2 separate regions of the Homo sapiens genome follow, and region 2 is linked to region 1. Evidence: fine-mapped expression QTL. A gene starts in region 1. The other region holds a variant in brackets. All regions are shown on one strand. Distances are between the middles of the regions. Region 1 holds the start of CXCL12 (C-X-C motif chemokine ligand 12). Region 2 has its middle 210 kb from the start of TMEM72.

Evidence for each region.
Region 2: its variant is fine-mapped to the expression of CXCL12 in sigmoid colon (GTEx, PIP 0.99).

The regions. Positions count from the first base shown.
Region 1 is chr10:44,380,664-44,388,663 of GRCh38, forward strand. CXCL12 (C-X-C motif chemokine ligand 12) reads right to left here and starts at 4,434. Exons shown (of 3, transcript NM_199168.4): 1 at 4,282-4,434; 2 at 100-217. The coding sequence starts at 4,342. RefSeq lists enhancers at 1,990-2,683, 2,684-3,377, 3,378-4,069 and a silencer at 5,963-6,172.
Region 2 is chr10:44,690,471-44,707,438 of GRCh38, forward strand. No RefSeq gene overlaps it. Among named protein-coding and RNA genes, the nearest start is that of TMEM72, 210 kb to the right of the region's middle. The variant C/T (reference allele first, on the strand shown) is at 8,629.

The DNA of each region.
Region 1 (8,000 bases):
CTTGTCACCTCTACACCTTTAATAAGACTCGGGTTAGATGTTACTATGTTCGTTAGATGCAACTATGTTCGTTAGATGATGTTCAATTTCAAGACTTACACAATCTGAAGGGCACAGTTTGGAGTGTTGAGAATTTTGAGATGCTTGACGTTGGCTCTGGCAACATGGCTTTCGAAGAATCGGCATGGGCATCTGTAGCTCAGGCTGACGGGCTTCCCTAGAAGAGGTAAGGACAACAAGGCACTTTACTACCCTGCCAGATTTTGGTAATGTGTGTCTGGGCTGCAGCAGTTGGTGCAGCGATTAAGGATCAAGAGACGGCATCACTGGGGTAAGTTCCAGGTTACTGGTGTATGTTGGGAAAGGCCATCTCCTCAGGCAACACAGTGAGTGCTGGCTGAGCTCAGGCTCAGCTTCTACAGGGCAAGGAGCCCAACAGGCCTGGGGAGAGCCGGAGCCTAGATGAGGCGGGAGTTTAAATTAGAAGCCACCTGCTCAGTGTCTCAAGATAAAGGTAGTAATTATAGTAGATAACGGTTTCAGTCCAAGGTACTGAAATTTCCAGTTACTCTTTGTAAAAAAAATTCCTCAAGGGACAACTGAGAAAGATCTCCCTACTCAGGGAAAAGAAAGGGGGACAAGAGGCTCCAGGCTCCCTGGCCTCTCTCCTCTGGCACAGGCCTCTAGCCAGGAAGCACAGTAGTACTCAGGAATGCTGCCCTCCCCCACCCCAGAGACCCCTCCTCACATTCACCTAAAGCTCTGGAAGGCACAAAAGAATCCTGGCTGGCTTCCTACCTGTGAGTCCCCTGAGAGCAGGCCAAGGACCCACCTTCTGCCCAGCACTTTCCCCAAGGCTTAGAGATTAGTGGAGCTGGAGTTAAATGTGGTTTTCATTGCCTAGGCAGGGATGCTGTAGCCTCAGGAATTGTATTAAGATCTTTGCAAAATCACCAATTTACAAAATGCCATAATTGACACTCATTAGTGTAAATTAGCAAGGGGCTCCTGCAGAACCCACTGCTCACCCTTTAAATATAGGATTGCAAGCCCTGGAGGGCTGGGATTTGTGTGTGCTTTTTGTTTTTCTTTTTTCCTTGAAGATTTTATCCAAGCCCCACTTAATACCCCAAATTATTTGAACTTGTGGATCCTTTCATCAGAGATTAAATATATGTCTAAGAATATTTGGTCCAGAGATTTTTTTTCTTTTTTCTTTTTTTTTAAGTTTGCCTGTTTACAAAGTTCTGAGAGACCTCTGTGGTTCTGAAATTCTGCACCTTTGGGAAAGAATGCTGGGGAAGTAGGAGGAAATCTTGAGTAAGGGGCTCATTTTATTTTATTTTTTCTACAGACTGCAATCAATTGAGGGATGATGTGGACTAGGAATTGCATTGTGTATTCAGCCACCAAGTTGCAGGAAAAGTGGACCACTTGTCCCCCCACTTCCTTGTCCCCAGGACCAAATGCAACTCCCTGAAAACCAGGAAAAAGCCAAGCATCAGGGTGCTGGTGACTCATGGCACTGGAGAGACCTAAGGCAGCCTTCACAGTTACACCTGATCTAACTCCAGAAAGGCACCTCTGGGGCCAGCTTCCAGCAGCTGCACTGGGACCCTGCAGGGGAAGTCAGCACTGCACTGTAACCAGATCACCTGGGAAAGCCACCCCCAGGGCCGGGGCCTGCAGCCTGGGTAACTGAGGAGCTAAACGCTCCTGAGTGTTGTGCCTCCAGGTTTCCCTGGATTTCTTTTGGGCCCTTCCAAGCTGAGGCAGGGGGTGGGTTGGGGGTGGAGCAGGAGAATAGGAGGCCGGTAGTGAGGCACAAGCCCCCTCCCGGCAACAGTGAGCTTGAAGATATGCAGCCAAGGGCAAGTGCTGCAGCCGCCCCCGCTGGGATGGGTGGGGCTGTGACTCTCCAGCGCCCAGAGGAGAGAAGCTCCTCTGGCCCCCCAACCAAGCAGTGGTGATGAGGCCAGAAATCAGAGCCTATTCAGAGCTCAACACACAGGCTCTCTCTCCTCTCCCCCTCCACCCCCTGGGATTATCCATTTCCTTCAAAAGCAATTCTTGCTTCTACTCCCAGGACCTAAGGCCCGCCTGTCAAGCAGCGAATTTCAACAGGTCTTTTTAAAGTGACAGAGCCCCCAGGTGTGCTTACCAAAAGAACATGGTCTCGTGTGTACCTCATGTGCTCCTTCCTCCAGCTTTTTGTCAGTAAGACTAACTTTCCCAACCGTTCTGGATGTAAATCCGTGTACCGGCAAGAGTCCTGACTGGCTCTGATGGTACCCCGGATTTGGGACCGGGTGAGCTTGGCTCCAGGAGTTTTCAGAAAGCCCTCCAGTCTAATGCAGAGACAGGAGCCCAGCTGGCCCCTCCAAGCAGGCTTGGGAAGGGGGCCCACCCTGAGTTTAAGCCCGGGAAACCCAAGGGCCCAGCTGCCTGACGGAAGTCAGCCAATGGGGGAGGGGCAGGACCCCTGGCCAAGCTCTCTCTGTAGTGCAGCTTGAGGACTAAGTGTGGGGATAGGGGGCACATAGGCACTGTGAGGTGAGGGGAAAACAAAACAAAACAAAACATTCTGGCGATGTGTGTAAGGAGCAGATCTGCCTGGAGCCCAGGCTCCTGCCCTGGTTACTTGGCTGCCAATGGGGCAACTCTGAGGGCCATGTCACCCTTCCCAGGCCAGGAGGAGTCTGGGATGAACCCCACGTCTCTGTGCTTCCCCCAGGTCAGTTGCACCCATAACTCAAAGACCGAGGTTCCTCATTCCAATCCTCTCTCCAGCCCTCCGGGGAGGGGGCAGCACCATTTCCCAGAGCGGCGCACTGTGACACCTCCGCGCTCATCCCACCAATCAGTCAATAACTGCCCAAACCAGAGACCTTACAGGAACAGAAGAATATCCAGCAATAAAAACTAGAAACATGCCCCATGACTTGCGGGGGGGGGGGGGGGTCAGTGTGCAGACACAGCCTCAGGGACTTTTCATCAACGACGAACATTCCCAATTGCCTTCAGTCTGTGTCCTTAACACTTAGGCAGTCCGCCACGACCCCAGGCTGCCCAGCTTCTCCAGCCCGACTCAGCTGCGCTGGTCCTGCTCACACCAGCGCACAGTCCAAGCCAGCTAGGACGCCGGGGCCACGTCTGCACCAACCCAGCCAAGGGCTCGAGGCGCGCTGGGCCTGCACAGCCCGCGGCTGCAAGAGCACTCAGAGTGTCCTTCAACTCTTTGCAGGAAACTTCACAGCCAAGGAAGCTCAGCGGCCTGAGCCACAGGGTTTTGTTTTGTGTGTTCAGAGGCAACAGTTTATTTTGGTTTGCATCGGTGTCCTGTGACAGCGCAGCGAGTTTCTCTTCAGCGAAAGAAAAGAAAAAAGCCCTCTCCCAGTGAAACGGGACACCACGGTTCCCAGTGGCCCAGGGCCTTGGAGATTGAACTTTGCTGCAGCTCTCATTCTGGGGCAAAGCGCTTGGCCAGCTGGTGACAAAAGAGCCTGTCTGCAGGTGTGTTTGGGGAGCTGGGGAGGGGGCGTGTGAGGCTCGGAGGGTCCCTGGGCCTCTCTCAGGTGAACCCGAGAAGAGACAGGAAGACAGCGGCTGGACGCGCGCCCAGGTCCGCGTCGCTGCGGACCGCGGAGCTGTGCAGAAGCGCGGCCTGGCGGGTGGCACAAGCCCGACAGCTGCGCCGCGCAGCCCGCCCGCGCCTGGCCAAGAGCCCCGCGAGGGTGTGGGGAGAGGATCGGCTTCGCAGGGAGCGGAGGCTGCGCGGCTGCATCGGACCTCACAGCCTCAAGTCGCGGCATGAGGCGAACTTTGCAAAGCGCGCTCTCGCCATGCACCGCCCGACCTCCAGCACTGTGCGCAGCAGGACCTCGGAGCCCATTCGCCTGTGGAAACCGAGCCCGCAGCGGGAAGGCAGTGGGTGGAGGGTGGGCAGGCAGGGGTCTGGGGTCCGCGGCTCCCCACCCTCGCGCCTTCCCGCGCCAGTCCCGAACGCTCTCTTGGGGCGTTCCTGCCCAGTTGTCCCGGCTGACCTCGCTCTGCAGCCAGCTTGAGGTCAGGCGGTCGCTCTCTGCAGGTCACAAACCCTCGGCGCAAAAGTAGGGCTTTGAACGCGACACCGCACCAGAGCGCCCAGCTAAGCGAGCTGCCTCCACCCCCACTGTGTCGGGCGGCGCAAACTGCGGGCGCAGGCAGAGGAGCCGCGGCTCTGCGCCGGGCGGGAGCCGAAGCCCAGAGCCTCGCCAGGGCCTCCCCGCCGAGCGCACTTACCGTCGCTGAGGCAGAGCGCGGTCAGCACGAGGACCAGCACGACCACGACCTTGGCGTTCATGGCGCGGGCGGGCGGGCGGGCGGGCGGACGAGCGCGGGTCGGGGGCCGGACGCCGAGCGGGCAATGCGGCTGACGGAGAGTGAAAGTGCGGCGGTGGGAGGCGCGCGCCGGGCGCTTTAGAGGGGAGAGCCAGGCGGGGCGGGGCGGGGCGCGCGGTGAGGGGCGGGCCCGGAGCCGAGTGCTGGCCGTGGCCGGGGTCTCTGACGCGCGACTCCCTCGGCGGCACCCCCCACCCATCCCCTTCGCCCCTCCTCCGCTCCCTCTGTGCTCCCGAGGCGCAGTGCGCTCCGGCCTTTGACCTTCTCAGGCTCCGCTGGGCCCCGCACCGCTGGCCCGGTCTGCAGTGAGGTCCGCAGCCTGAGCGACGCCGGCTGGAGGGCCGCTTATTGTCCCTGTGACAGGGCCCCACTGGAGAGACTGAGGACCTTAGGCGTAAAGTGGGGCGCGCGTGGAAAGCTGCGGGACGGGGCCTTTCGATGGCGGGAACTGAATGAGAACCAATGAAAAGCAAACAAGTTAGTCCCGGGCGGAGGGCCTGCTGGCGGTGGCGGCCCAAGGCAGCCGAGGGGGTCCTGCTTTCTGTGCGTGGGGGCTCAAGCTCGCCACCTGCCCGGCTTGCGGCGCAGCCGCCGGCAGAGCTCGATCTGCGGGAATGAGACCCGTCTTTGCAGTCAGCGTGGCTCGGACTCCAAGCCCACGGCGCCACCAGCCGAGCCTCAGTTTCCTCGCCTGTACAAACAAAGCAGAAGGCGCCGGCGGCTCTCAGTAAAAGCGAATGTAGCCTTTGTACTTCCGACCTCTCAATGGTGAAATGAGCTAATCACAGGCCCACCCCGCGGAGTGGGACGGGAGATTCAATGAGACCCGCCCCACGCCGCGAAATTCTCTGCATCGTGTCTGACAAGCAGACAGTACTCAATAAATGGTAGCTGTAAGTAAGTCCTTTAAACCTAAGTACTTACTGCCTTACCCAAGAAAAGCTCCGTGCGACCCAAAGAGCTGAGAACTCCCCCACCCCGACCTCCGACTCCTAGGACAGTACTACTGGCGTCTGCCTTCTGGGTCCAGAAAACTCTTCCCACGGAGCCGTCCCTCGGCGGTGCTTAGCCCTCCGGATACCCCCGAGACATCCCAGATGGCCCCAGTCCGGTGGCGAAGGGAGGGTGCAGGTCGGCACCCAGGAGACGTGGGGGTGAGGAGAGCGCCCCTTTGGGCCTCGCTTTGTGACCGCAGGCTGCCCCAGCCACCTCTCTGTGTCCTTCCCAGCACAGCGTCCAGCGAAGTGGGGTCAGTCGCCGCGTCCATCCAGGGGCCTGCCCTGGGGACACGTCCCTGTCCCTGGGGAGTCCTGGCCGTCGGGGAGTGGGCGGTCAGCGGCTGCATTAGGCGGGAGCGGTCAACAGGAGGCTGCGAGGGCTCCGGAACTCCGCTGGTGGGAGTAGGTGTCTTCTGTGCATTTTTTTTCCAAAACCACTTTGGCCGTTAGATGGCTGTGGGCCGGCACTCCATCCATCCATCCATCCATCCATCCACCCACCCACCCACCCACCCACCCACCCTGGGCACTGGGCTTGGAGCCGGGAACCCCACTGACTTGGCCCTGCTCTTAAAGAACTGAAGGCAGTGAGGTCCAGTGAAGAAGGCAGCCGTCGGGCGTCCCCAGGCCTTTGCTGGGCTGGGCCGGGGAGCCTGGCCGCTCACCGGCCGCAGCGCTGGGGCTCCGGCGCCCTCTGGTGGCGGCGCCTCCCTCCCCGCTCCCAGAGCTCTGGCCAGCTCCATTCCTGCGCAGCTGATGAAACCCGGGAGGGCGAAGGGGTCCGCGGGAAATCTACACCCGGGTGGAGGGGCGCCCTGGAGCTCGGAGATCCGACCCTGCGGGAGCCGCGCGCAGCCTCGCTTGCCCTTAAATCTGGCCAAAGCAAACGCCATCGCCTCTCGCTTCTTCTTCTTCTTTTTTTCTTTGCCACAAAATCAGGTGGGCAGCTGGACCTAGGATCTGTCCCAGAAGCCTGAAAGGCCCGCGTGGGCTGAGTCGAGGGCGAACCAGGGATTCAGGCCTGGCCGCTGCCCCTCCCGCAGGCGCCCTGAGGCCCCAGAACAGAAGCTACTGTGGCACCCATGGGGCCATCCCTTCCGCTAGTCGTTCGTTAAATACTTACTGAGCACCCACTATGTGCTAGACCTGGGCTACATGTTTGAAGTAGTTTAGAAAAGGCACTAAACGTTTAGAAGCACATGGCGCTAAGCATAAGTAATTACGCATAAAATACTTAGAAGGCCATTAAATGCTAGGGGAAGATGGAGCAGAGGAAAGTGGGGTGGGAGTTAGGATTTTAAATAGGGTGGCCAAGGATCCATATTTTAGGTACAAGCCTCACAATTTTACAATTGGCGATTGAAATTTAAAACCCTGGCCGGGCACGGTGGCTCATGCCTGTAATCCCAGCACTTTGGAAGGCCGAGGCGGGCGGATCACGAGGTCAGGAGTTCGAGACCATCCTGGCTAACACGGTGAAACCCCGTCTCTACTAAAAATACAAAAAAATTAGCCGGCCGTGGTGGCGGGCGCCTGTAGTCCCAGCTACTCGGGAGGCTGAGGCAGGAAAATGGCGTGAACCCGGGAGGCGGAGCTTGCAGTGAGCCGAGATGGCGCCACTGCACTCCAGCCTGGGTGACAAAGCGAGACTCCGTCTCAAAAATAAATAAATAAACAAATATGTAAATAAATAAATAAATATGTAAATATGTAAATAAAATAAAATAAAACCCTGTACACTCTGGGGGCCTCCGCACCGCCTGCACAGGCAGGCGGCCATCAGACCAGGCCATTTTGACATGTCTCCAGCTCACTCGGCCACAGGGGTACCTCTCAAATTCGGGTCAGCGAAGTTCCCCACCCCTTTCCCTGTGTCCTTTGCTTATGCTTATGCTCAAAAGGCTCCACCTTTCTTTCTCTGCCTGGGGACTCTTACTCCCCATAGAGCCCCACCTTCTCCTGAAGTCTTCAGACTCTGTGCCGCTCTACCAGGTAATGCAGGGCACAGCGGCTCCTCAGGGATGCCTTGTTAAGCACAGTTCAAGGTGGGAGGCAGGGGTCTGGCTGCTGAGTTAAAGGCAGGGCATCTCCTGAGCTGGCATGTGTGCTATGGTCTCTAGACCCCTAGGCAGCATCTGCCTACCCCCCTCTGCCTGGCCTGGGCCGTTCACTCCTCCAGGGCCCAACGGCTGGGCCTGCAAGAGGGTTCCCAGTAGGGATTGAAGGTTTACACTAAATCCATGTTGTACAGTGTGTAATTGACAAGGTGACTTCAGGTGGTACTCTGAAATCTATAAAATATAGATTTATGTATTTATTTTTTTAAAGTAATAAGAAAAAATATAACTAGCACAGTAAAGGCAGATATTTCAGATATTGCTCAGGTTTTTTTTTTAATATATGGTTCAAGTTTTAAAAAGTAAGTCAATTGAAGCTAACATAGCAAGTGCTAGTCTAGGTGGCTGGAGACATAGCAAAAATTTTGACAGCAATACAAATAGATCTGAAATTTGAAAACCTTTTCTACATGAAGAATATTTTTTGTATTACTTGACACCCTCCCACCGCAATCCCCCTCTTGAAATAAGTATTTGGCTCCAAAGTGCTGAAACATAAAATCAC
Region 2 (16,968 bases), 310 kb after region 1:
AAAGCTCAGGCAGTTCTCAGGCTTTTGCCCCAGTTTTTACATCCTCCTGGACCCTCTAGGGTCTCCCATGTGCATGCATAGTTTTCTAGTCTTTCAAGGATGTGTATAGAGCTTATCTAACCCTTCTATGACTCTCTAATTTTTAAGGTATTCCCCTTAAATTTCAGGCTGGTTTGACACTCATTGCAACCAAGAGTAACAACCTTAGGCTAGCAGAGTTACAAGTTTTCCCCCACTTTTTTCCTAGTTAGTTTTCTAATTTTACCGAAAACACCATCAGCCATGAGTTTTCACCCTCTACTCCAAATTTAGTGAGCTGCCTCTGGCAGCGAAATTGCTGGTTTCCATGGCCAACCCTACCCTGGTAAAACTGCTGCAACTGAGCTAGGGGTAGAGGGAATGGGAGCAGACCCTGGCAAGCAGCCTCAGACTCCCACTCGGTTTTTTGGTTTGTTTGTTTTGTTTTTTTCCAGACAGAGTCTTGCTCTGTTGCCCAGGCTGGAGTGCAGTGTCACGATCTCAGCTCACTGCAACCTCCACCTCCCAGGTTCAAGTGATTATCCTGCCTCAGCCTCCTGAGTAGCTGGGATTACAGGCACCCACCACCAGGTCTGGCTAATTTGTGTATTTTTAGTAGAGACGGGGTTTCACCATGTTGGTCAGGCTGATCTCGAACTCTTGACCTCAAGCAATCCACCGCCTCGGCCTCCTAAAGTGCTGGGATTACAGGTGTGAGCCATTGCATCCAACCCTCCCACCACTTTTAGCAGAAGTTCCAGCACATCTTCATTTAAAAATATCTTTCCATTTGTTTTTTGCTTTGGTCACCCTCCAGAGGCCTGAAATGTTTGTTTCTGACAATTTTGTTCAGTTGTAAACTTGGTTTTGGGGGCAAAACATTTGCCATTCTCTTTGCCATAGCAAGAAGTCTCACCTGTTTTCAATTACAACATAGGCAAATTTACTAAATTTCCCTTGATGGCTTGTAACTTCGTGGTTTTCTAAAAGAAATCCTTCCCCCTCTACCTCAGGTGTTAAATATAGTCACCCATATTTTCTTCCAAATTGAAACTACTTTTAAACAAATTATTTAAGTTTTAATCCACTTGGAAGTGACTACTGCATACAGCATGACGTGGGTTCTAGTTTTATTTCTTCCTTACGGATAAGTCATTCTGTGTTTGTGTATAAAATTCTGGACCAAATTGGCATGGTCTCTATTTTGCTAAATTCTTTAGAAGTCTTACAAACCCACAGCCAATATCATACTGAATGGGCAAAAACTGGAAGCATTCCCTTTGAAAACTGGCACAAGACAGGGATGCCCTCTCTCACCACTCCTATTCAACACAGTGTTGGAAGTTCTGGCCAGGGCAATCAGGCAGGAGAAGGAAATAAAGGGTATTCAATTAGGAAAAGAGGAAGTCAAATTGTCCCTGTTTGCAGATGATATGATTGTATATCTAGAAAACCCCATTGTCTCAGCCCAAAATCTCCTTAAGCTGATAGGCAACTTCAGCAAAGTCTCAGGATACAAAATCAATGTACAAAAATCACAAGCATTCTTATACACCAATAACAGACAAACAGAGAGCCAAATCATGAGTGAACTCCCATTTACAATTGCTTCAAAGAAAATAAAATACCTAGGAATCCAACTTACAAGGGACGTGAAGGACCTCTTCAAGGAGAAATACAAACCACTGCTCAATGAAATAAAAGAGGATACAAACAAATGGAAGAACATTCCATGCTCATGGGTAGGAAGAATAAATATCGTGAAAATGGCCATACTGCCTTAGGTCATTTATAGATTTAATGCCATCCCCATCAAGCTACCAATGACTTTCGTCACGGAACTGGAAAAAACTACTTTAAATTTCACATGGAACCAAAAAAGAGCCCACATTGCCAAGTCAATCCTAAGCCAAAAGAACAAAGCTGGAGGCATCATGCTACCTGACTTCAAACTATACTACAAGGCTACAGTAACCAAAACAGCATGATACTGGTACCAAAACAGAGATATAGACCAATGGAACAGAACAGAGGCCTCAGAAATAATGCCACATATCTACAACCATCTGATCTTTGACAAACCTGACAACAACAAGAAATGGGGAAATGATTCCCTATTTCATAAATGGTGCTGGGAAAACTGGCTAGCCATATGTAGAAAGCTGAAACTGGATCCCTTCCTTACACCTTATACAAAAATTAATTCAAAATGGATTAAAGACTTAAATGTTAGACCTAAAACCATAAAAACCCTAGAAGAAAACCTAGGCATTAGCATTCAGGACATAGGCATGGGCAAGGACTTCATGTCTAAAGCACCAAAAGCAATGGCAACAAAAGCCAAAATTGACAAATGGGATCTAATTAAACTAAAGAGCTTATGCACAGCAAAAGAAACTACCATCAGAGTGAACAGGCAACCTACAGAATAGGAGAAAATTTTTGCAATCTACTCATCTGACAAAGGGCTAATATCCAGAATCTACAATGAACTCAAACAAATTTACAAGAAAAAAACAAACAACCCTATCAAAAAGTGGGCAAAGGATACGAACAGATACTTCTCAAAAGAAGACATTTATGCAGCCAACAGACATATGAAAAAATTCTCATCATCACTGGCCATCAGAGAAATGCAAATCAAAACCACAATGAGATACCATCTCACCCCAGTTAGAATGGCGATCATTGAAAAGTCAGGAAACAAAAAGTGCTGGAGAGGATGTGGAGAAATAGGAACACTTTTACACTGTTGGTGGGACTGTAAACTAGTTCAACCATTGTGGAAGTCAGTGTGGCGATTCCTCAGGGATCTAGAACTAGAAATACCATGGGGCTGACCCAGCAATCCCATTACTGGGTATATACCCAAAGGATTATAAATCATGCTGCTATAAAGACACATGCACACGTATGTTTATTGCGGCACTATTCCCAATAGCAAAGACTTGGAACCAACCCAAATGTCCAACAATGATAGACTGGATTAAGAAAATGTGGCACATATACACTATGGAATACTATGCAGCCATAAAAAATGATGGGTTCATGTCCTTTGTAGGGACATGGATGAAGCTGGAAACCATCATTCTCAGCAAACTATTGCAAGGACAGAAAACCAAACACCGCATGTTCTCACTCATAGGTGGGAATTGAACAATGAGAACACATAGACACAGAAACGGGAACATCACACACTGGGGCCTGTTGTGGGGTGGGAGCAGGGGGGAGGGATAGCATTAGGAGATATACCTAATGTTAAATGACGAGTTAATGGGTGCAGCACACCAACATGGCACATGTATACATATGTCACTAACCTGCACGTTGTGCACATGTACCCTAAAATTTAAAGTATAATTAAAAAAAAGAAGTCTTTATTTTTGGTAAAGTACATTTTTTACTTTATTCTCTTCACTATATGCTCTTGTCTATAAATTTCAGAAGGAGCTTATCAAATCTGTAATAAATTCTGTTTGGGCTTTTTAACAAAATTGCATTAAATCTCAGATTAATCTATATTTTCATAATTAATATATTTAAAGTATTTTTAAATTTTTATTTTATCTTTTAATTGACAATAATTGCACATGTTCATGGGGTACATAATGATGTTTTAATACATAATAATGTACAGTTGTTAGATCAGGGTAATTAACATACGTATCATCTCAAACCTTTATCATTTCTTTGTGCTAGGAACATCACTATCCTCTTTCTAGCTATTTGAAGCTTTATAGTGTACTATTGATAAGTCTAGTCATCCTACAGTGGTATAAAACACTAGAACGTATTCCTCTTACATAACTGTATTTTTGTATCATTTAATAAATCTCTCCCTGTCTCCCTCTCCTTCCCAGCCTCTAGTATGCTCTGTTCTACTTTTTGCTTCTATGAAATCTACTTTTTTTAACTGCCACATCTGAGTGAGAACATGCGAAGTTTAATTTTTTTGTTCCTGGTTTTTTTTTACCCAACATAATGTCCTCCCATTCCATCCATGTTGCCTCAAATGTCAGGATTTTATTTTTAATGGCTGAATAGTATTCCATAGTGTATATACATCTCATTTTCTTTATCAATTCATCTGTTGTTGGACACCTAGGTTGATTCCATATCTTGACTATTGTGAATAATGAGGCAATAAACTTGGGGGTGCAGATGCCTCTCAGATATAACGATTTCCCTCCTTCAGATAAATTCTCAGTAGTGGGATTGCTGGATCATGTGGTAGTTCTATTTGTAGTTTTTTGAAGGACTTCCATACTGTTTTCTGTGGTAGGGGCTGTATGAGTTTAGGCTCCCACCAGTAGTGTATAGGGGTCCCCTTTCTCTGTATTCTCACCAGCATTTGTTATTTTTTGTGTTTTTGATAATAGCCATTTTGGGGTAACTATTGTAAGTGGGATTACCCTCTTGATTTCTTTTTCATGAAAGAAATTGTTATTTGGGTATGGAAATGATACTGATTTTTGTACGTTAATGTTGTGTCCTGCAACTTTACTGAATTCGTTTATGAGTCCTTAGAGTTTTTCGGTAGTCTTTAGGCTTTTCAATATGTAAGATTATGTTATCTGCAAACAGGGACATTTTGACTTCTCCTTTTTCATTTATTTATTTATCTTGACTAATTGCTCTGGCTTTAACTTTTATATCAGTGTTATAAAATCCTATCTATACAGCTAATTTAGATTGATAGCTTATCAGTATCTAGTTTGTATAAGAAAAGGACATTAATGAAATTCATCAAACTTTGATAACAATACTGTCTCTGTGTGGGATTTTGCATGATGCATTTTTTAACATTTATTTTTGTGCTTTTAAGTTTATTTTAGTTTTATTTTTACAATGGGTACATGTCAGAGTTATTTTTTTAAGATATTTGTTAATTTTTAAAATGCATTCAAAGGAAAGCAGCTTAGGAGGTAGACCAAATCAGTTTTGGTATCTTCTATAATGTGGACAAACTACACACATGTGGTCATGTCTCTTCCAATGCGGCAATTTTCCCAACCAATAAAGTAGGTAGTTTGGTGGCTCTGGTGAGTCATAAATTTTCTAATGAAAAATAATTGGATTCAAATACTGATTCTCCCACTTACTCTATTTTCTTTTACTCTTTTAATCTTCAGTTTCTTAATAACATAGGACTAATAATCTCTAACCCCATTTATTGTTTATTGCCACATTACTCACAATAGTCAAGATATGTATTTTTGTCAATTTTAATGAAATAAAATATGTCAGCTTTATTCTACTTAATTTAAAACCTCAATTCCACAGCCTGTGGAAGTCAAATCCCTCCCCACAATTTCTGCCAATGCCATAAATACAAACTGTTATGCTGCTACATTCAGTTCCCATTATGCTATCTCTGTTTTGTCGCTACATCAATCAATCCAGAAACAAAATTGCATTTACTTATGAGTTTTCAAGCAATTGAGCCATAATTAATTTTATGAAGATTTAGGAGTCTCAGAGTGCACTGTCTTCTGTCATTTTTGTTTATTTCCTAGGCTCTAAACCCTGTTTACCTCCAAACCAGTAGGATTGGCCCCAGAGCTCAACAGTATTTTGGTGCCTGCAAAAAAAAAAAAAAAGCTGAAAACAAAAAAACAAATAAAATGGAAAACAAACAAACAAAAACCCTCTATTGCCTGAATTTACCCTAATGGGAAGGAGGTTGACATTACAAAATTGGGGATATGTGTGTGTGTGTGAGAGATTGGAGAGAGGTTGACATGACAAAATTGTGTGTGTGTGTGATTGGAAGGAGGTTGACATTATAAAATTTTTGTTTGTTTTGTTTGTGTGTGTGTGTTTGTGTGTGTGAAATCTAGCACAGTGAGTATTTAGACACTAGCTTAGTAAGTGTTCCCTTTCTTTCTCATTGGGTCATCACCTTGTAGCAGAAGTGATTTCAAGAGCCCACCCCACAGAGATACCTCTTAGATTAGTTTCAAAGGCCGTGTCCTGGCCCTCTTTCTCTTCTCATACATCTCATTTTTATCTTGCTGGGGGCAGCTAGTGGAAATAACTTAGTTTTGCAGAAGCATAAACACATTCCCTGGTCATGCTCTGTTTCCTTTCAGCCATCTTCCTCGGTCCCAGCTCACACTCACAGAAACTGGAGAGTAAAGTGAAAACAGAATTCAGGGTTTACAAAACCTAACTACATTTTTGGAGACAGTGTTTTGTGGTCTTTGCCTTGCCAGACCATCTGTTAGCCATTAGCCTCCATTCAAATGAAGTCGTCATGTTTTCTTCCTAATGAAGCACTGTGGGCCGAACAAAGCTTTGCGGGTTTCGTCATTCTAAATAGGCTTGCTCACCACAGAGGACATCCCTCAGCGGGTGTCAATGTTAACAGTCCCCAGGTTCACTTAGAATCCCCTTCTGTGGCTTCACAGAGACCCAGGCCCTGGATGCATCGCAGATCCTCTTCTTTGACTACATGTAATGACTGAGCTCTACAATGGTCCGACTGACAACCAAGAGCTACCAACTCTTTCTGGAAAAAATAAAATTAGAAAACTATCCCTGCTCCTGGCTTCAAGTTACAAAACAACTACTTTCTATAAGGCTATTTAATGAGTGTGTACTGGGTCCCAACTGCTGTAAAGCATTGTTTATAATATTTATAGCAGACTAATAAGATTGTATTATTAGAGCCCTTTACAGCTGAGGAAACAGAATCTCTGAAATTTTGAAAAATGTGCTGAAAAGTGCATGGTTAATAAGTGACAGAGCTAAGATTCCACACCACCAAAGCTTGCTCTCTGACCACTTCCCATGTTCCCTGCTGTGGACACGTTGTAAACAAGTAAGCACTTTGCCTGCCCTTTCTAATGGAAGGGATATGCTGGACCCAAACTCACAGAGCAAATCAGTGGGCTTGTTTGGACTCAAGCCCACAGCCTTTTGATGAATGCTGAACTGAAGCCTTAAGTAGGAGATGGTTATTTTCTGCATTTGTTTAGCAGGTTTGGAAAGCAACTGGATTTGGTTTCAAACCTCAGCATTTACGAGCTGTTTGATTTTGGATAAGTCACTTTGCCTGAGTGTCAGAATTCTCACTTGTAAAATGAGAATAAAAATGAGAACTCTAGGTACTTACCTGATCGTTCTCAGGATCCAGCTTCTCCCCCATTAAGATGACAGGCACTCCCTGACTGCAAGGAAGCCAGCTATGTTTGAGATCAAATGAAATAACATGGGTCAAAAGTCTTGGTAAAACAGCCGGGTGTAGTGGCTCACACCTGTAATCCTAGCACTTTGGGAGGCCAAGGTGGGTGGATCACTTGAGGTCAGGAGTTCGAAACCAGCCTGGCCAACATGGTGAAACCCTGTCTCTACTAAAAACACAAAAAAGTTAGCCAGGCATGGTGGCCGGGCATCCCAGCTACTCGGGAGGCTGAGGCAGGAGAATCGCTTGAGCCTGGGAGGCGGAGGTTGCAGTGAGCAGAGATCACACCACTGCACTCCAGCCTGGGCAACAGAGTGAGACTCTGTCTAAAAATAATTAAATAAAATAAAAGTATTGGCAAAATGCTGGGAATGGTTTTGTGGTTTTATGTGATGAACCATAGGAATTGCTGTCTGACACTTAGCCATAAGAAACCATAATTTTTGTATAATTGCCTATGTCCAGTTGAATCTGGGAGATCCCTTAGTCTTGGTCATTTTGTTGGTAAGATCACTCTATCCTCCCTGGCATTGTTTGGGGATGGACCTCTACTTTCTGGTCAACCATTCATTCCTCTGCCATAGAGATGCTCATGTCTGGTTCTCCGGTGTAGATCCCCTTCACTGGTCACCTGCCAGGCCAGCCTCAGTGGCTGCTCTCTTAACAACACTGCAGGGCTCAGTGTCCAGACATCTAAGTTCCTGGCCCTGATATTTTGAACTGGCAGTCCCTTTGTCCTTCATCTTTTGGAGTCCAACTCCCTCCCATGGTTTGCCACATCTATCTTTTATCCTTGAAGCACAAAATCTTTCATTTTTTCCACTTTTGAGACCATTCAGACACATTCTTTTGGGTAAGCAGCCACTGATCCAAATGCTTACACAGATCGAACAGAAAATGTAACGGACTGAAACCGCAGGGTGGGAGCACATGGAGCTTGCCTGCAGAACCAGCGAGAAGTTGGATGTTTGGGGAGGCATCCAGCCTTGGAAGCAGCTCGTCTATTTCTTGGGGGAATGTGGCCCCATGTTCCCACATCTTCCAAGTGCAAAAACTGCTAACTTGGATTGGGGAAAAGGAGTCCAGGACCTGAATTCAAAGCCTCACTGAACATCCCATGGGAAGAAGAGGAAAATTAACTTTCACTCTTTCATTACTTAAGACCCTGCATTCAAAAGGAAAAAAAATTCAACCCAAACAATAAAAAGATATTTAAAAACATCAATTGCATATGGCAATTCATTTTCTTACAAAGATTGTTTGGGGTAGAAAGAAAATTATTTTCCTGAGCTTTCACTAGTTCTTATACCCAGTAACTGTGTGAGAGGGGAGCTCTGGGGCCCAGTCACTGTTACTGCCTATCACTTCTGCCAGGAAAGAGAGATCCAGAGGAGGCGGGCGTGCAGGTACTGGCAGGCTTCCCT[C/T]CATGAGAGCCCTGGGGTGAACACTCTCTCTGTGTGATGTTCAAGGGCTACCTGCATATGCAGGCAGAGGTGTCTTCACCAGAAGTACCTGTCTCTGCTGCACATCTAGATTCCCAGCATGGAACATTCTAGTATATGGATAAACTACTGTAGGTGTTCTTTTTTTTGTTTTCATCTACCTTGATGATTCTAATGAGCAAGTGTTGCAGAATTATTATTTTATGATAAGGCTGTCTGATCCAATGTCTCTCTCGTACATGCCCTGCCTCAGGCTTAAAATTGACACTTCTTCTTTCTGCAGGTATACAGGAAAGGGAATAGAGTTAGGGGCCAGTAGAGTTGAGTTTTGTCCTGGTTCTGTCACTAACCGGTTGTGTGATTTAGAGAGATGGCCTGAGTTCTCTGGGCCACGGTTTCCTCCCCTATAAAATAGCGACATTCATCCCTACTCTGTTTCCTTACAGCTCAGGGCTCCTGGGAGAATACAGTGGGATGCTCGGTATAAAAAAGGAGAGGACTGAGTCAAAGAGACTCCCATCCAGACAGCAGGAAGCTGTTGACAAACTTTGTCTGCCCTGCACTGTCCTGTAGGTGGAATGGTTGCTCCCTCCTCGGATTCCTGTCTCCACCTGAACAATAAAGGAGTTACCTAGATGAACCCTGCGTAACTCCTTCCAGCTCGTACATTTCATGACCCCAAGATTCCCAGCCCAATGTCCAGGCTGCCTAGGAAAGGCTGGAGTAGGCAGGTCTGGGGGAATAGATCAGGGGAATAGAGGTGGCTGTGATGCAGAGTGGGGGGTGAGGTAACGGGAGGCACCCCAAGTGCCTTCATGAATGGGGTGCTTCACATATACTTACTCATTTCATCACCAGACAACACAAGGAGGTCAACAGTAACATTATTACTCTACAGAGGGGGAAACAGACTCAGGAACATGCTGCTGCTGAGGGGTGCTGAGGGAATTGAACCCAGGTTAGTCTGACAGTAAAGCCGCCAGTGCTCTTCACCTGGGGGCAATCTTGCCCCCAAGGAAACATGTGTTCATGTCTGGAGACCTTTTTGGTTGTCACAATGGGGAATTTGGGTGCTGCTAGAAAGTAGTGGGTAAAGACCATGGATGATGCTAACTATCCTGCAATGCACAGGCAAGACCTCCTGCAACAAATAATTATCTTGCCTAGATGCCAATAGTGCCAAGGCTGCAAAACCCTGAAGGAAGTCCAGAGAAAGGTTCTAGATAGCTGGGCTGCCCTTAACTGTGCCCAGCACCTGTCTCCCCATCTCCCACCCCCATTCTGAGCTAGATTTGCATCAGTTAGCTACAGAAAAGGCACATTGTTTCCCATTGATAACAGAAGATGTAACTTGACTTGAGAAAAGCCAACAAAGTTGTACATTTGTATGAAATTAAAGGCAGGAGAAGTCATACATGAGCTCAGGTTGGTGGCTTAGAAGAGACTCTTTACAGAGCCAGCCCCAGGGGAGGAGGCAGGAGGAAGTATGGTAGGAGCCGGGTTACCTGCCTACCACTTCCACAGGGATGGTTTTGCTGTGTGCAAACTTCTCCTGAAGTCCTGTTCCTGTTCCTCTCTTTCCACCATTTTTCTGAAGACAGCTCTTTGCACAAACCAGGAACATGTGCAGTTGCCCAGTATGAGCCCCAGGGAGACCCCTTTCTGTTCTATTCTGATGCATTTGCTTTCCTGGGGTAAGACCTGTTTCCCATTCCTCCATTGAGCCTTTAAAGGATTCCTCTCATTGGACAAGGATTTACCAACTTACCAGCTCAGGGCTTTTCTAACTTCCTTTGTGACTTATTTGACAAACTGGTTATTTTGAGAGTGTGCTGTTTAATCCTACATGTTATAAAATTTCCCAAATTTCCTTCTCTTGTTGATTTCTAATTTTATTTCACTACAGTCTGAGAGAATGCTTTGCATGATCTCAATTTTTTTAACTTATCGAGGCTGATTTTATGGCTCCACATGCAGGAGAATGGTCCATGAGAGCTTGAGAAGAAAGTGTATTCTGCTCTCATCAGGTAGAGGGTTTTATACATGTCTGCAGGACCTAGTTGTTTTATAGTTGTTCAAGTCTTCTGTACCCTTGTTTATCATCACTAGTTGTTCTATTCATTATTCAAAGTGGGATATTAAAGTTTCAAATTATTATGGTTGAATTTTTTATTTTTCCATAAATTCTGCCGAGTTTTGCTTCATGTATTTTGTAGATCTTTTGTTGGGTGTGTATATATTTATATTATATGTATCTTCCTGAGGGATTGAACTTTTGTCAGTATCCCTGCCATGCTGTATCTCTAGTAACTTTTTAATTTTAAGGTCTATCCTCTCTGATATTATTATAACCACTCTGGCTCTTTCATGTTTGCTATTTGCATTCTACATACTCTTCTATCCTTTTACTTTAACTTGTTTGTATTATTGAATCTAAGTGCCTCTCTGTAGACAGCATATACTTGTGTCTTGGTTTAATTTTTTTAATCCAGTGTCAAAATCTCTTCCTTTTTGTTGGATTGTTTAATCCATTCATATTTAATATTGTATTAGTGATATGGTTGGATTTACCTCTGCCATTTAGCTTTTCATTTTCTATATGTCACATGAATTGCTTCTTGACCTTTTGACTACCATCAAGTGTAGCATATGCCACATGATTTTTAAAGACCCCTGTTTTTCATTTACCACCTTCTTTTTGTAGTATCTATTATAACTAATTCCAATAATGAGATTTTATTATATCTTTCAGTTATTTTCTTAATAGTTGCTCTAGGGCCTACAATATACATCTTAACTTATCAGAGTCTGCTTCAAATATGTATTAGCTTAATTCCAGTAATATATAAAAGTTGTATTCATATGTAGCCACATCCCCCTCCGCTACTATTTTTGGTTATGATTACTGCACATCTAACATCTATACAGGTAACAAACACAAAAATACACTGCCATAATTGTTACTTTATGTAATCTTATGTCTTTTAAATAAGCTGAAAGAAAACAAGGAGATAAAGTATACATTTAGAAAGTTTGTTTTATTAAATTTTAATTGCATTTTTGGCTCTCTTAAATTATTTCTGTGGATTTGAGTTACCATCTAGTATCGTTTCCTTTCTCCATACAGTTTTGCTCCCACTGTCTTCTTTGGGCTGTTACCATCAATATATTATAGGAAGAACTATATAAATTTATACATATTATTTGATGCAATTACTTTTAAAATCAGTTTTTAAAAAGGAAATATATCCTTATATTGTCTTTATATTTACCTTTATCAGCATTCATTTTTTAAAATGTGAAATTTATTTACTGTCTGGTGTCACTTATATTCAGTCTGAAGAATTACGCTTAAGAAAAGCCTGCTAGCAATGAATTATCTCACTTTTGGTTTATTGTAGAATGTCTATTTGGACATCATTTTTGAAAGATAGCTTTTGGTTTTGCTGGGTATAAGACAGAGGGAATTTTTGTTGTTTATGTTGTTTTTCCTTTAGACACTTTGAATATATCACCCCACTGTTTTCTGCTCTTTGTTATTTCTGATAAGAAGTCAGCTGTTAATCTTACTGGGGTACCTTTGTGCATGATGAGTCATTTTTCTCTTGATGCCTTTGAGGTTTTCTCTTCATATATGGCTTTCAGATTTCAACTATGATATGTCTGGGCAAATATATCTGCGTGTATCCAACTTTTTGTTTGTTGAACTTCTTAGATGTGCTGATTAATGTTTTCCACCAAACTTGAAAAGTTTTCAGCCATTATGTTTTTAATTTCTATAATTCTATTTCTCCTTTCCTTATGGTAATTTCATTACACATATATTGCTGTGCCTAATGGTGTCAGATTTATTTGAGACTCTGTTTTTCTTTATCCTTTTTCCTTTGTGTTCTTCAGATTGCATAATCTTTATTGCTCTATCTTCAAATTCACTTATTCCTGATTGTACCAGTTTAAAATGTACTGATGAGTTCCTCTCGTAAATTTCTCATTTCAATTATTTTATTTTTCAATTTCAGAAAGCCCATTTGATTCTTTTTTCATAACTTCTATTTCTTTGTTGATATTCTCTGTGTGATGAGATATCGTCACCATAATTTTCTTTATTTTTTTCTAAACAATTTATTTTGGTGCTTTGAATATATTATAATAGCTAGTTTACGTCTTTGTATACTAAGCCCAACACTTGTGTTCCCTCAAAACAATTTTTACTTTATTTTATTTAGTTCCCTCTACTGACTATTTTTTTTTTTTTTACTATGAGTCACACATTCCTGTTTCTTTGCATATCTTGTAAATTTTTTGTTTCCAACTGGACATTTTAGACAATACATTGTAGAAATTCCAACTGATTACATTCCTGTCACACCCACACCCAGGCTTGTTCCCTCTCCCACTAGTCATTTGTTGATTTTTAGTGATTTGTCTAAATTAAACCTGTGAAGTTTATTCTTCCTCTAGCCTTACATTATGCAGCCTCTGTTGTCTATCCTCATAAATTTTTCCCTAGTTTTTTCATTTAGCCTAGTGGTCACCCCTGGGTCCACATTAAGCTGCTTATTGGTCAAAGGTTGTGCTCAAGCCCCCATTAGTCATTAAATTTTTACCCATTGCCGTGGATGTATATTTAGCTTGGAAATTGCTTTCACGGTTCAGGAAAGTTACAATTTTTTCCCAAGGTCAAGTAGGAACTAATAGTTTAAAATATTCCTCCTCAATTAATCCTGAGAGGACATGGCCTTGGAATGCACAGAGTCTTCCAGACTTCAAAAGGTAAATGTGATTTTCTGTTTAAGGTTGGCTTTATAGGAGTCTCCTCTGGAACAGAAGAGCTTTTTCTTAAGTCAGTTTTTGGTCAGAGTATGTGCTTACGTGTCATGTGCCAGGGAAGCATCCGCCCCTTTTTGATGAATTTGTGTGTGACTTGGGTACTGTTTCTGTCCCATTCCCTACTCTAATTTTTTCCAACTGAATGCAGACTAATCTACAGGAATAGCCTTGCCAACACCTAGATTTGACCTCGATCCCAGGAGGATCTTTCTACACTCTTTCTTTTCCGGGTTCTCTCTGTTAGACTCTTGGCTGTTCTGCTTTTTCACTTGTTACAAGTCTCATGGAACTACCAGTCCCCTCTTAGTGGCTCTCCACAAAGATCTCCATTGTTTTTGACAACACCCTTAGGCATAAAATTCTCTGCACTCTTTTCCAAACAAAATCAGTCCTCTCAGGAACAACTGTGTAGCTATCCATGCTTGAGGCTTGCCTCTTCTGCTCTATGGAATCCCTGTGTCACCGGTGGGACATACGGGCAAGAACAATAGTCCATTTTTCCCAAAGGAATATCCTGCTCTGCGAGTGGTCACTGGTCAGAGATGGTAGCCCATGGTCTTCTAGGATTGCCCCTACTGCTGTGGAATCTTCATCCATTGAAAGGTCATGGACAAAAGTAGTCCCAACATTTTGACTTGCCATACCTAGGGTAGAGCTTCTTTTATATGAATGGGAACTGGGTGAAAGAAGTGAATGCTAGTCCTTTTAGCCACATCCACCCAAAGTAGACCTCCTGCAAGAAGAGGGGTATGAGGAAAGCTGGTATTCTGCCTCTCTCTGCATGAAGTCAAAGCCATAGACTGGAAACTGGAAGAAGAGGGATCCTATGCCTTCTTGGCTAAACACATCTGGAGTAAAGTCCCTAGGGTAGAGCTTTTTTCACAAGAAGCTGAGTGCGGGCTGGACATGGGAGCAGTTCATGGCTCAAATGTCAGTCTCTTGCTATTTTTATCAAGATGTATTAGATTTTCTCAAGTAAATGTTTTTCCATTTGCTGCATGCCATTGAGACAATTTTTAGAGATGAAATTGTTTTTTGTTTTGATTTGTTTTGTTTTTTGAGATAGAGTTTTGCTCTTGTCACCCAGGCTGGAGAGCAATGGTGCAATCTTTCCTCACTGCAACCTCTGTCTCCCAGGTTCAAGCGATTCTCCTGCCTCAGCCTCCCAAGTAGCTGCAATTACAGGCGCCTACCACCATGCCCATATAATTTTTTTATTTTTAGTAGAGATGGGGTTTCACCACATTAATTATTTTGTTTTTATAATTTTCACCAGTTAAATTTCAATGAGGAGAAGGTTGGCAGAGCTCCTCTTACCACACACCATTCATTCATATACAGTGCACTATGTACAGAGAAACACTTAAGCCAAACTGAAAAATGTAAAGAGGCAGCTTCAGACTAAACTTAATTTAATAGTTTCCTACTTTTGATCAACCTCCCAATTTTAAGAGGTTGACCAAAACTTTAGGCATTGAAATCACTCTGTCTCCATTGTAAATGTACTTATTTGGTCCTAAATCCTACTAGGAAATTGAAGAGGAGTATGTTTTGTAAGGTGGGAACGAGGAATTCAGGCTTTTTTCTTTTCTTCTTTTTTTGGTTACAGTAGAGGGGGCCTCCTTGTGCTGGAATCTCCTGTGTACACGAAAAATACAAAACCTGGTCTGTTTTAGGACCTATCTGCTTTCTTAAAGTTTCCATTTGATTATGTGGCATTTAGCATGAAACTTTGTTTTGACTTTCTCTGGTCTGTTGGGGCTTAGTGTACAAGCTCAGTTCAAAACAATGGCATCCCATAATTTTGTTTAAACGTTCCCCTCTTTTGATCAGGTTCTTACTTAGGTGAGAATGAGACCAAAACTTAGGGCTTCAGCACCACTCTCAGTTACCATAATTTGCTACCCACCATTCTTGATACACACATTTTAAGGCAAAACTTTTGTATTTTATTCTACATTATAATTTTCACATTTGGGCATTGTAGCCTGACTTTCAGATTCACGTATCTCCTACTGCTCAGCAAACTAAACTGATGGGACCAACAGAAGTTTATTTCCATGGGAGCAAAAAAGGATCCTTGAACTATAATAGAACCCATGTCGGTTATGAAGGTGCAACATGTCTTGCATAAGTTGGGATGACTTAATGTTTTCTGTAAGGGGAAAGAATCCTGGAAGAGAACTTTTCCAAAGTTGACCCAGGGACAGGTCAGGAGCTCCTTTTTGAACACAGGGGAGAAGCGATGCTACATAAAACACAGGTCTGTTGCCAGAGTGTCACAGCCCGGTGCCTGCCATACCCCTGCACGCACAGAGAAATGCACCTCTGTAGTCCAGGCCTCCACAGCTTGGTGATTCTTGGCATAGTCTTAACATCCCTGGGAGGAAATTATTATACCAGATAGAGCAGGAGGACTATGGTGACCCAAGGAGAAGTGGGAGCATCATGTCAAAGTCTCAGGGAACGCTAAGCTCCAAAGAGCCAGAGTTTTCTCCTCGAGGCAGGAGCTTTTTGGTACTCAACTAGTGGCAGCTGAGAAATGAGGTACCGGAGAAGCAGCGGTCTCACCCAGAGGGAGGGAACTTGGTCATGAGCTTATCAGAAACATCTCCAAGATACTCCCAGCAATGTTGAGGAGGGAAAATGTAGAAGGCTGGCAACCCCCATCAGTGGTTCAGATGATGTGTCAGTGGACTGGGAGAGATAGGTTTCAATAGGACCTCATCAGGACATCTAGGGTGGTGGGTCCTGTGGAAATTCTGTTGATGGACCAGGTTTCTTAAAGCAAGACTGACCTATACCTATGCTGGAAAATGAAATTTATGTACCACACCCACCCACACAAACACAACTTAAGCTCTGTCCCCTGTTTCCAAGAATAAATGGAAAACATGAGTCCTGATCCCTTTATTGCCTCAGATTAATCCCTCTTGGCCATGGAACAAATCACAGTGCCATGGCTGTGGCTCACATTAGACCTGACCAGCATGGAGTGATTCAACACTTAGTCACCATTTGTGCAGATTCTTCTCAACCCCCTCAGACTCTCTGGGAGATTCTCCTTGGAAACCAGTGAATAAAAGCCCATCTGATGCCACATCAGCAGTGATTCTAGGACTAACAAATTGGGATGGCCAGAGAAGGCCTGCCATGATAGAGTTGTTTCACCTTGTTTGCCAACTTCACTCAGTGGCTGGGAGATGACAAAGACCTACTCAGGGCCTGGAAGGAAAAACTAATGCAATGACCAATTAATGGCAATAACCTTATGCATGAGAGGAGACAGAGGTGGCACCTGTCCCACTTATCTGCTGTGCCCATTTAAAACAATCTTTTAATGTTTGTATCTAGAGGTAATCAGAGAAAGCCTCCGTTAGACCCTAAGGAGGAAAGCTTTAGGGCACAACCAGGGACGGGCGACTTCTCCCGATTCGCTGGAATCTGTGAAGATAGGACTAGATGAGTAGTTAGGACAACAGTTCAAGCAGA